Regions from separate parts of the Homo sapiens genome. Here regions 2 and 3 are each linked to region 1. The links come from fine-mapping of genetic effects on gene expression. A gene starts in region 1. Each other region holds a variant in brackets. All regions are shown on one strand. Distances are between the middles of the regions.

Evidence for each region. PIP is the estimated chance that this variant, and not a neighbour inherited with it, causes the effect.
Region 2: its variant is the best candidate, but not a certain one, in a credible set for the expression of BTD in whole blood (INTERVAL, PIP 0.89).
Region 3: its variant is the best candidate, but not a certain one, in a credible set for the expression of BTD in whole blood (TOPMed, PIP 0.70).

The regions. Positions count from the first base shown.
Region 1 is chr3:15,599,486-15,603,728 of GRCh38, forward strand. It overlaps BTD (biotinidase), which reads left to right and starts at 2,260. Exons shown (of 4, transcript NM_001370658.1): 1 at 2,260-2,409. It overlaps HACL1 (2-hydroxyacyl-CoA lyase 1), which reads right to left and starts at 2,084. Exons shown (of 17, transcript NM_012260.4): 1 at 1,898-2,084; 2 at 1,605-1,709. The coding sequence starts at 1,978. RefSeq lists an enhancer at 1,989-2,631 and a silencer at 2,473-2,532.
Region 2 is chr3:15,652,120-15,656,362 of GRCh38, forward strand. BTD (biotinidase) reads left to right here. Exons shown (of 4, transcript NM_001370658.1): 4 at 1-1,595. Among named protein-coding and RNA genes, the nearest start is that of MIR3134, 43 kb to the right of the region's middle. The variant C/T (reference allele first, on the strand shown) is at 1,882.
Region 3 is chr3:15,646,435-15,650,677 of GRCh38, forward strand. BTD (biotinidase) reads left to right here. Exons shown (of 4, transcript NM_001370658.1): 4 at 1-4,243. Among named protein-coding and RNA genes, the nearest start is that of BTD, 47 kb to the left of the region's middle. RefSeq lists an enhancer at 248-781 and a silencer at 1,208-1,502. The variant G/A (reference allele first, on the strand shown) is at 2,084.

The DNA.
Region 1 (4,243 bases):
TTAGTCTCCCCCATTGCCTACTGTTAAAAAAAAAAAAAAATTCAAACTCTTTTTAGATTTCCCACAACCTCCCCTCAACCTACCTACCAGTCTCACAGCTCACCATGCCTTTACCTACCTTGAGGGAACCACATGAACTAACATTACCTCTACAGGCAATCTTCTCTGTCCTCAAAGAGAACCAGTCACCCCTTCTGTGCTACTACATCTATTGTGAGAGTTATAATAGATGAGTCTTTTTCTGTAAGTCTTACCCTCACCTTCCAGGACTGATCAACGTGAAGATCAAGACTAAACCTCACTCCTTCTTTACATCCCTCTCTCCTACAGGTTATGTAGCACAATCCTTAGTATACAGTACTTAGTCAATAAATGTTTGCTGTATGAAGAAATCAGTGGCAGATATGTCATCTCTACAAAAACAGTTAAGTATAGGTTCCATTCATAGGTCAATAGCTTCATTTTTTCACACAGATGAAAGAACAGAATGTTGTTCTAACAAAGACAAGTAAAATGTAGAAGCAACAGAAACTCAAAACCTCCTAGTTTTAAGATTAAAAAATACAAATCTCAAACCTTGTAGATAAAGAATGTCATTCAATAAAGAATGTCATTCAATAAAGAATGTCATTCAATTAATAAATAATGTATAATATTAAGCATCTACACCACGTGAAAGCACAAACCAAGCCAGGCACTGTGGTGATATAACAAATGAATCACAACTTCTGCCCTCCAGGCACTCATGTATGATGGCAAAAGGCACCACTTAGGGTGGCCAGGCAGTTGTTTGGGCAAGAGGAGGCAAGAATTTAAATTAGAAGGCAACGGTGGGAGTGTAAAGCAGGAATATTTAGCCTCAGCTGGACTGAGAGTATGTGATATCACAGAAGTGGATTCTTGACCTTTCAAGCCCGCACTACTGAGAGAAGAGCAAGGTGGATTGGCAGAGGATGCACTTAAAGTGGATTGACAAAACGTCGTATCTTCCTTATCCTGCTTCCAAATAAGCCTCTAAGAAAGGTGGCAGCATGATGTGGTGGAAAAAGCATCAGGCTAGGATCTGAGCCATCTGAGTTTCCATCAAGGCACTACCATTTGTGATATCCTCCACCCTGCCCCGAACCAATCATACAACAAAGCCTTGGCCTTCACTCATTTATCCCACAGGTAATCTCTGAACACCTTTCTTATGCAGGCACCACACTAAGCACTGGGGGTACAGATGTGTCGTGAAGAAATAATATCCCTGCTCTAATGGAGCTTGTAGCCTAATAGGGAAGTCAGACTTTACTCATAAACTGTCCATTCCAATCATGACATACAGTATAGTAGTAAGAGAATGGACTCAGACCCAGAATACGTGGGTTCAAACCCTGGCTCTGCTACTACCAGCTGTGTCACCAAAGGCAAGTTTTACTTAACCTGTGTCTTTTCTCATCTGTCAACTTGGTGTAACAACAGTTAATATTCAACAGTGATTGATATGATATATGTAAAGTAGCAGAAGAGTGGTAAGCGCTATCTGGGTGTTTGCAATGCATACCTACCGCTATTACTGATCATTCCCAGTAACGCATTCAGCCACCTGAGTCCATACTCACCGCTTGCTCATTCCTCATCCCGATGTACTTGATGCCTAGCTGCTGGGCAGCAATGGCGATTTCGGTCACTGGGATGCCTACGATGCCAAATATGTACTCCACATCCTGAGGAACGAAGAACAGGGGAGTAAACTCCCAAGGCCCCACCATATCGCCACATCCTTCCCTCCCTCCCGGGCGCTAAAAGGAAAACCCCCCGACCCCCATCGCCCATTTCTACTCGTCTCCAAGACAACATCGCGGTCCCCGCCAGCTTCCGTAGGAGCCTTTCATTCCAGGAAGGTCCATCGTACTTGCGTTTTCAGGGCCTGAGCGATGACTTTAGCACCAGACACCTGCTCCTCGCTGCGCTCTGCGAAGTTACTGTCCGGCATCTTCCACCGAAAAGCTCTAAGCACTCACGCAGCCGGCAAACAAGCGGAATCATCCAGCAAGGCAAACGCGAAATCGGCAGCACGCCACCTCTGGTACTGCACCTCTGACGGACAGGAGGGCAACCAACTGCCTTAAACAACGGGAAGGAAGAGGCGGTCTAAATTCGTCCACTTCCCGGGAGAGGTGAGAATGTAAACACGCGCGTTCTCCAATCAGAACTGCGCTCTCTTCTCGGCTCCTCCATTCGCGCGCCAGAATGCCAGAGGGAGGCGGGACTAGCAGGAGATTGCTGCCTATGCAAAGCAGGTAAGAAGCCGAACTCTGAGGCCTCTCGCCATTGTCTCCGAGTCGGCCAGCTGGAGCGTTTTCGGGGCTGTAAAGGGAGAATGGCGCATGCGCATATTCAGGGCGGAAGGCGCGCTAAGAGCAGGTACGGAGGGGGCGTGGTGCGGCGCGGAGGGGGTGTGGTAAGGGCGTGCGGTCCAGACCCCGCCCCGGGCGCCCAGTTGGACTTGGGGAGGGCTGCGCAAAGGCTGCCGGGAGCTGGGAAGCCCGGCGCGCGTCGTTTGCTGGGGCTGTTTGTGCGTTGCTGCTGTGCTACCGCGTTGCGTTTTCTAGGCATTTACTTACACGCTTTGTGGTTTACGCTCTCATAACCTTGTGGTTTTATAGTCCTTAAATTATTGTAGCGCACGTTACTTAAATCCAGAAGCAGATGTGTACCCCAGCAAGAGATAAAATGACGCTCAGAGTCAGTAGATCCAGACCGTGCCTGAGATCCTGAATCCTGTTTCCTACCCACTATTCAGCCATTGGGTCACAAGCGATGAAAAGAGCACCTTGAAGGTAGTATAGAGCACTGTTTTCTCCAGCCCTTGCTACTAATCCATATTACTCTCCGCTAATATCTTTCCAAAATTAGGAACTATGGCGTTTCATAATTCTTAGGTTGGGTCCCTACCTACAACCAGCCCTGCACCCGATAGCCTTTTAAAACATTTTTGTGTGAAAATCGTTTGCAATGTGCAATATCTGAAACTACTGCCTTGGAGTCATTAGACCCTCTGCTCAGTGACAATAAACATAAAATTTCCAATTGTAATAAACAGTGGAACTTTTAATTTTTTGAGGATTTGGAGTCATTTTAAGCAAAAAGAACAGTGATAAGTGGACAGTAAAGAGATGAGAGGGGAGTGGGTCATGGGTAGTGAAATGAGTGAGAAGCACTGGAAGTGAAACGATTTCTAAACCCAGACATTTTCAAACTGTAGTCCTGGGTCTTTTCAAAAGGTCTTCCCCTCTTTTTCTCAACCCCTCAACCCCACCCCAAGCAGAGGAGAGTGAAGTGGTTGCCTCCCTGCATATGTGGACGGTGTTAGTCCATTTTCATACTGCTATAAAGAAATACCCAAAACTGGGTAATTTATAAAGAAAAAGAGGTTTAATGGTCTCACAGTTCCAAATGGCTACGGAGGCCTCACAATCATGGCAGAAGGTGAAGGAGGAGCAAAGGCATGTCTTACATGGTGGCAGGCAAGAGAGCGTGTGCAGGGGAACTGCCCTTTATAAAACCATCAGATCTCATGAGACTTACTATCATTAGAACAGCATGGGAAAAATCCCCTCCCCATGATTCAGTTACTTCCCACTGGGTCCCTCTCACCACATGTGGGGATTATGGGAGCTATAATTCAAGATGAGATTTGGATGAGGACACAGCCAAACTGTTCTGCCCCTGGCCCCTCCCAAATATCATATCCTCACATTTCAAAACCAATCATGCCTTCCCAACAGTCCCCCAAAGTCTTAACTCATTTCAGCATTAACTCGAAAGTCCACAGTCCAGAGTTTCATCTGAGACAAGGCAAGTCCCTTCCGCCTATGAGCCTGTAAAATCAAAAGCAAGCTAGTGGCTGGGCGCAGTGGCTCACACCTGTAATCCCAGCACTTTGGGAGGCCGAGGCGGGCGGATCATGAGGTCAAGAGATGGAGACCATCCTGGTCAACACGGTGAAACCCTATCTCTACTAAAAATACAAAAAATTAGGCGGGCATGGTGGCAGGCGCCTGTAATCCCAGCTACTCAGGAGGCTGAGGCAGGAGAATGGTGTGAACCCGGGAGGCAGAGCTTGCAGTGAGCTGAGATTGGGCCACTGCACTCCAGCCTGGGGGACAGATCGAGACTCCGTCTCAAAAAAAATAATAAAATTAAATTTAAAAATAAATAAATAAAAGCAAGATAGTTACTTCCTAGATACAATGGG
Region 2 (4,243 bases), 53 kb after region 1:
AGTTCAAGACCAGTCTGGCCAATATGGTGAAACCCTGTCTCTATTGAAAATACAAAAATTAGCCGGCATGGTGGCACACGCCTGTAGTCCCAGCTAGTCGGGAGGCTGAGGCAGAAGAATCGCTTGAACCCGGGAGGCGGAGGTTACAATGAGCTGAGATAGCACCACTGCACTCCAGTCTGGGCAACAGAGCGACACTCCGTCTCCAAAAAAAAAAGATACTGCAGCTTCTATCTTGGTTGCTCACTTGCTATCTTGGGTCCCTCCCTCTGGGGAAAGCCAGTTGCCATCTCCCAAGGATCCCTATGGACAGACCCATTTGGCAAGGAACAGCCACCAGCTAGCTGCATGAGCGAGCCATGTTGGAAGTGGGTCCTCCAGCTGCAGTCAAGCTTCCAGATGACCACTGCCCTGGGAAACGACTGCAACCTCATGAGAGACCCTGAGCCGGAACCACCCCACAAAGTCACTCTTGATTTCCTAAGTCTCAGAAACTATAAAATATAAATGTGTGTTGTTTTAAAATCCTAGGTTTTGAGGTAATTTATTATACAGCAATAGAAAACTAATACAATAGTCTTGCTACCAGCACCTTAATCTCCCACATCCAAGTTAAAATTCATCCAACACTCAATCTCCCAGCTATCCTGACTGCTCCTATACAGGTATCTCTCCCACTATATATATATCAAGTGCTATTAGTGGCTATTATTTGTTGGGTTACACAAAGCCAGAAATCATCTACATCTACTCTCTTTTCTTCTGGTTTTGAATAGCAAAATGCAACAGGGAGATGTTCTCAGATAGAGGGAGAACAACAAAAAGAAGGGTCCATGCTGAACAAACTTGTTTGCTTTGAAATCGGAAGTTCTAGAGGAGGTATTCTGACAGTGGCCAGGAAAACCTCCTGCCCGCAGAATTTTGTCTAATCCACCCCAGACAGAGTTATCCAACAGCCTGGTATGGTGCAGACCAGGGGCTCTCGAAAGGTGGGCTCCAGGCAGCAGCACCAGTAGCACCTGGGAAATTGTTGGAAATGCAAATTCTTGGGCTCCACCCCAGATCAACTTAATCGGACTCTCTGGGAGTAGGGCCCATCAATCTGTGTTTAACAAGTCCTCCAGGTGATTCCGATCCTAATCAAGTGTGAGCCCACTGTCTAATGCGGTGCATACCAAAGCAGGTGCACGGGTCTTAATCATCACCTCAGTCCTCTGAAACAGGCAAGTGTGTCCATTTTACAGAAGAAGGAACTAAGGCCTGGAAGGCAAGTCCTTGCCTGAGACTAAACAGAATCCCAGCAACATAGGACGAGGCTGGAATTCCCACACCTGGACTAATGCACAGCCAGTGTTTCAACGTCGCCAACCCAGAAATGTTTTCTCTCCCTGTCATGCTAATTTTCAGCCCTTTCTGGGTGACTTGTTCATCATCCAAATATATTATTTTTGTTTTGTTTGACTAAAGGCAATTATATTTACATTTTCTCTAAGTACTGGAATGTAATGGTTGAAATTCCTATTCAGTGATCTGGAAGAACTCTAATGTTCTAAAGTGATTCTTTGATAATTAAAGAAAGATGTAATTATGTATAATGTGATTTGTAAGATAAGGTATAACTTTGGGGGTGTTCTAATTCTTTAAAAATTGTTGATCCGACTATGGATGTCTTGCAACTCTCAAAAAATCACGTGTGAAAGTTAAGCATTAGTTCCGTGTAAAATACTGTGCTAGAAATTGTGGAGGATGCAAAGTCACATAAGACTGTTACTGTTTTTTAAAATTTATTTTTTAAAATAGAGACAGGGTTTCTCCATATTGGCCAGGCTGAATCTCAAGTGATCTGCCTGCTTTGGCCTCCCAAAGTGTTGGGATTACAGG[C/T]GTGAGCCACTGCGCCCGGCCAAGACTGTTACCTTTAGCGAGAGCTTATTATCACCTAGTGTTCATATAAACATGGGATTTAAATACACACACAACCCCCAAAACAAATTGCTAAAAGATATTTGTGCAGATTTTATTTTTCCAAATGGCTACAACAGTATTTGAAGAACTAACAAGTTTAAAAATGTAAAAGGCCAGTAAGGCAACATTGGGCACTGGGGCAAGTGAAGGGGAGGGAAGGAGCATGGAGTCAGGGGAGAGGGCATTGGCTGGTTCTGCAGGCTCTGCAGGCTGGGGGAAGAGTTAGGGTTTATGTGGGCAGACAGCATTGCAGGGGATTAGGCAGGGGAATAACATGGTCATTTAAAATGATTCTTCTGGCTGATGACAGGTTTTCAGATGCTTCACCTCCTCCTAAGTCAGTCACACCTCATATCCAAGCCATGAGGACTCACTGAGGGGAATGTAATAAATAGCTATTTAAGGGAAAAATAACAATTAAAAAATCTATAATAGCAGTTTAAGGGACAAAAACCAAAACATTTCTTTGGAATTATTCATGTTAAGCTTAACATTTTCTAATATAGTCCTGCATCCTTTTTTTTGTTTTTGAGATGAAGTCTCACTCTGTGGCAATCTTGGCTCACTGCACCCTCTGCCTCCCGGGTTCAAGCGATTCTCCTTCCTCAGCCTCCTGAATAACTGGGATTACAGGCATCTGCCACCACACTTGGCTAATTTTTTTTTTTTTTAGATGGAATTTTGCACTTGTTGCCCAAGCTGGAGTACAATGGCATGATCTTGGCTCACTGCAACCTCTGCGTCCCGGGTTCAAGCAATTCTCCTGCCTCAGCCTCCCATGTAGCTGGGATTACAGGCATGCGCCACCATACCCGGCTAATTTTGTATTTTAGTAGAGACGGGGTTTCTTCATGTTGGTCAGGCTGGTCTCAAACTACTGACCTCAGATGATCTGCCCGCCTTGGCCTCCCAAAGTGCTGGGATTATAGGCATGAGCCACCGCGCCCGGCCTGCATCAGTTTTTAAAAGACATCAGACACGTCAAAGCCACAGGAGGAAAAGCCCCTACATTCATGCACAACAGAAAGGCTTTGTTTTCAGTAAACACGCACATCTTCAAAGAATGGTTGCAATCCAAATTGTTTAGTAACTATTAGAGGAACAAAGAAGGCTGTGTCCTCTGAATTATAATGTGCATATCCTCTAAATTGCTGCATATTAGGGGTTGAAGCATGCTGGGAGTTTGACGTATGTAAGGAAAATTATTAGGTTGATGGAATATAAAGATACTTATAATAAAAGCCAGTATTTTGGCATTTATAAATGAATCTGAAAAGGGTGAAGAACTTCATTGTTTTGCAATTAATACCACAAAATGTGGCCCTTGTGTTCTACTGGCCCCTGAAAATTGTTTCAGATCTTTCCTTGGTGCAGTGTATATTGAATAGTAAAAGGGACATATGTCACAAAACAGATTTATTCCTACAAATTTACATAAAAAATAAGAAGTGAAAAAATAAACCCAGATTTTGAATGCGCTGGCTTGGGAGCCCAGAGACCAGGCCTGGCTTGCTTTTAAATTGTTGTGTGACCTCAGCCATGTACCTGTGCCTCTCAAGGCCTAAGGTCCTCTCTCTGTAAAAGAGGGGACTACATGAGATGATTTCAGCTCAAATATCCTTGGAGACTCTCATTGTTTTCTAGTTGTAAATTATGCTTTTTCTAATAGTAAATAAGAAACGAAACAGTATTCATGTATGACAGAGAATACTTTGTTGTTTTTACTTTGTTTTGTTTTTGAGACAGAGTCTCACTCTGTTGCCCAGGCTGGAGTGCAGTGGCATGATCTCGGCTCACTGCAACCTCTGCGTCCCGGGTTCAAGCAATTCTCCTGCCTCAGCCTCCCATGTAGCTGGGATTACAGGCTCCTGCCACCATGTCTGGCTAATTTTTGTATTTTTAGTAGAGACAAGGTTTCACCATGTTGGCCAGGCTGGTCTCAAACTCCTGACCTCAAGTGATCCACCCACCTCGGCCTCCCAAAGTGCTGGGATTACAGGCATGAGCCACTGCACCCAGCCTACTTTGTTATTATTATAGATGTAAGATACAATGAATTTCTCTGAGTTTCTCTTTAAAGATTTAGCCTGCTAACTTCCTTGACCTTTGTTTTCAAACCTCAACTTTTCTGTTCCTCCTTGCCCCTAGTTATTGTAAAATAGCCTACCCCCTTCCCATCAGTTCTAATCAATACCTCACATCTGTTGCCTTGGTTACCTGCACCCATTGTTCCCCTCAAACTGCATGTCTCACACACTTCACCACTGTACCTCACGTCCCC
Region 3 (4,243 bases), 47 kb after region 1:
GGGACTGCCGTGAAGGGCATGAAGGGTGGCCCACTTTAGTCATGCATTTATTCAATCACCCAACAGGCACAGAGCAGGAGCTTCCCATGTTAGGAATTCCAGATGCAAAATTATCAGACTCAATATGGTGAAGACATTTTTAGGCCACTGATTTCTGTGTAATTTGTGTCCAATATTTCAAAGCCATTTAAAAAAGGATTTTGACTGCATGCCTAGTAGCTGTTTCAGATCATTTTTTAAGTACAGAATGGATAATTAGTCTTCAGTGATTTGCCTCTTAAATGTGGCCATTTAGTTTGAACTCCTTTTTAGTTATTTTAAACAGTATATGCTTAAACATCACACGATTTTATAAAGCAAGAAAAATGAAATGATCTCCCTATTCCCCCACGGTGTAGGCCTCCAGATCCTTTTCTGGCTTTTAGGCAGGACAATTAACAATGTGGATTCTGCAGTCAGACTGATGGGGTTTCCATGCATGGCCTCACCATTAACTCCTCACTGGGGAGACCTTGGGCCTCGGTTTTTTATTCATAGAATGCATGTTGAATAAACCATGTGGGAAAAAGCAGAGCCAGCACCAGCCCCTGCTGACTCACTGATCCCTCGGAAAGGTCTGGGATGAGTCAAGTCTTCAGGGAATAAGCAGCAAGGACTTGGAATTCCTGAGCAAGCCTTGGGTTCCCCACGCCCTAGGAAGTCCCTCTGGAAGGGGAGCAGGACCTCTCCCACCAGATGACGGAGTTCGCTTTCTCGCCCAGCGCAGCTCCCACCAGGCGTGAGCTGGCAGTCCAGAAGCGGCCCCAGATGTGGCTACCCACCGCCCAGTCTGCTTCCCTGCCTCAAACCCCAGGGAGACAGAAATTACCTAAAAATGCATATCATTGCCTTATGCCAAGATGATTCAAATAAGCCTGAGAAAGAGAGGCCAGCGCTAAATACAGACTTGGCAGAACTACTTCACCCAGTAAACATCTAATCAGCACCTGCAGGATCCTCATTCTGCCCTTCTGGGCAGAGCACCACGAACTTTCCCTGAGTTATTTTCTACCAACAATTTAGAATGAATTGCTCGTGAAGTAGAAATGAGGGGAAAAGCAACTAATGGTGGTAGAACAAAGTAATTTTTACAATTAAAAGAAGTAGCTGCCAGATGACAGAACAAAGTAGAGGACGGGAAAATAAATCATTTTCAGGGAAAAAATATATCTATGACTAATGGTTGTGATTATGTTTTTGTCGATTGTGATCCTGAAACTCAGGAAGCAAATGGCAATCTTGACCACAACATGGAGACAGGAAATCAAATGCATTTTTGGCTAAACCAGACTTGGGGGAAGTGGCTTGGTTTGCGTGGTTTCTCATGTAGGTGCAGCTGTGCTTTTCTGTGGTTTTTCTCACACGGGAAGTGAGAGGCACAGTGAGCTGTATTCACACTGGATTTAAAAGCCCTGTTCTTAGAGAGGAAAAAACCAGGCCTCCTCACAGACTGCCAAGTCCCAGAGCCCACCATGTCTGCTCTCAAGACACAGGCCTGTCCAGAGCCCCTGCTGAGGGAAACCCACCCAGGCCACTTTTCCCCACAGGTGGCCCTGCTTGGTACCTGTGCCCCCACCCCCCAGCCATGGTATATTGAACCAGGAGGAGGCACCCAGCCCAAGGCCAGCCAATCAGAGCACTGGCTAGTAGCCCAGGAGGTGTCCCTGCACAGAAGATCTCCTCAGAGAGGACCGATGGTGAGTCGGCCGCTCTTGATTCTCAATGAAACTCAGAACCGCTCAAGTGAAATGACCACTCAAAGAACAATTTCTCAACAAAGTGGATTTATATAGGACAAAATAGGCATAAAAGTATGAAATGTTTTGTGCACAAAGGCCTAGATTTGAGACAAGAGCTGATGTGGCCTGAAGATCTGTGAGTGGGACTGCTTGGGAGGCCATGTTCCTTCTCAGGCCAGAGAAAGGTCCTGGTCTCCTGGCTTCAGTCTTTCATTCCCTAACCTCCCTTTGAATGTTAGTTACCTATTCCCACATAACAAAGTGCCCCAAAACTTAATGGCATAAAACAAGCATGGACATTGTTA[G/A]TTCACCCAGTTCTGTGGGGCAGGAAAGCGGGTCTCTCATGAGGCTACAGTCAAGATGTCAGCCGAGGTGACAGTGAAGATATCAACCAAGGCTGCAGCCGGTTGAAGGCCTCACTGGATTTGGAGAATATTATTGATTAAATTGCGTCTTCCCCAAAAAAGATACGTTGTAGTCCTAACCCCCAATAGCTCAGAATGTGGCCTTATTTGGAAATAGGGTCTTTGCAGATGCAATGAAGATATAAGTTAAAATGAGATCACACTAGAGTAACTGGGCCCTTAATCCAATATGACATGTCCTTATCAGAAGAGGAGAAGACACACACACAGGGAGAAGATGACCATGTGACAACAGGGGCAGAGATCACAGGGATGCCTCTACTAGACAAGGCACACCAGAAATTGCTTGCCAACAAACACCAGAAATTAGAAGAGGCAAGAAACAACTCCCCACACACAACCCACCCCTGCAGGTTTCAGAAGAAGCATGGCTCTGCCAACACCTTGATTTTGGATTTCCAGCTTCCACAACTATGAGACAATAAGTTTCTGTTGTTTGAAGCCACCCAGTTCAGGGTACTTTGATATGGCAGACCTAGGAAACAAATACAGAGGATCACTTGCAAAATGGCCCATTCACACAGCTGGCACGTTGGTGCTGGCTGCTAGCAAAAGGTCTCAGCTCCTCACCACTTGGGTCTTTCCATAGGGATAGCTGAGTGTCCTCATGATGTGGCCCCTGGCTTCCCCTGAAGCAAATGATCCAAGAGAGCACAGGTGGAGCCATGATGTCTTTTATTAACTAGTCTCAGAAGTCACACTGCATCATTTGGCACCATCTTATTGAGTTACACAGGTCAGCCCTGCTCCCTATGGAAAGAGACAGAGGGTGTTAGATGCCCAGAGGTGAACCTCATTGGGTACCATCCTGCAGGTGGGCTGCCACTCTGCTCAATCCAAATCACAGCTCTCCCGTTTCTCACCTCCCAACAGTTGCTGTTCCTCAGGCCAAAGTTCACATTCTGCACAGCCTCAGCTCCGCCTGACCTCTGAGCTCACATGATGGCCCTTACTGTGAACCTGGGTTTCTGGTCCAGCCATAGCTACTTCTTTAAGCTCCTCCAGTGTGCTGAGCACAGTCTGGCCCCTGTACTGTTGTCTGCTTGAAATGGCGTCTTCTGATGAACACTCATCCATCCTTCAAGGTCTACTCTCTCATCACAGCTTGTGACTCTTCCACTTTTTGAACTGGTGTTTCCCATTCCCAGTTCACAGAGCCCTTTCTCATTGAACTATTTATCTGAGTTCCCTCTGCCGGAACATGAGCCATGCCTAGAGTAGCCACCTAGTAGTGAGTGACAGCTCTGTGCTGGATGCACATAAATGGTCTCCCTTAACTGCCATGAGCCCTAAAGAAGGTTTGCTACAGCTATTTTACAGATGGGGAAAACTGACAGAGAGATATTAATGAATTGCCCACATGCAAATATGTGCTGAGTCTTGGATTTGCATCTTTATCGTGACTCCACGGAGACCCACCCTCTAAGACCAGAGCCAGTGTCCTATTCATCTTTTGTCTCTGCAGCGTTCAGCATGGCACTGTCTTGGCTTACAAAATCTGCTCTATGCTTGCTGACTGCTGAATGAATGAATGAATGAATAGGTAGTCACAAAGAATGTTTAGAATGTTTCTCAGACAGGCTGAGAAAAAACACAACGAAACATTATTTCCGTTTGGAAAGTTTTTTTATTTTTGTGTTCAGTACTGAAGTAAAACAAAAATCTGAATAACAGCTGCACCGTTAAAAATGAAATTACCAATATATGAACTCTAGGCATCATGCATATATAATTTTTTGTAGATAACTTTTCTTCTCATTTTCCTTCTCATTCTCTTCATCTTTTTCTTTTTGTTTGAGCAAAAAAAAAAAAGAATATATTAACTCGTAACTGGGGAGTCTAAGAATAAATTCTCTTCAGCCATTGCTGAATCTAGGGGCTCAAATGGTGTCTCTGGACACAGTATCACACTCTACTCTGCACTCTTCTTTATCATTTTCTCCCACAGACAGACTCTCGTGTAGTTGCAACAATGGCCATGACTTCTAGGCTTCATCTGCCCCTCTCAGCAGCTCTAGAGAAGAAGCTCCTCTTTTTACA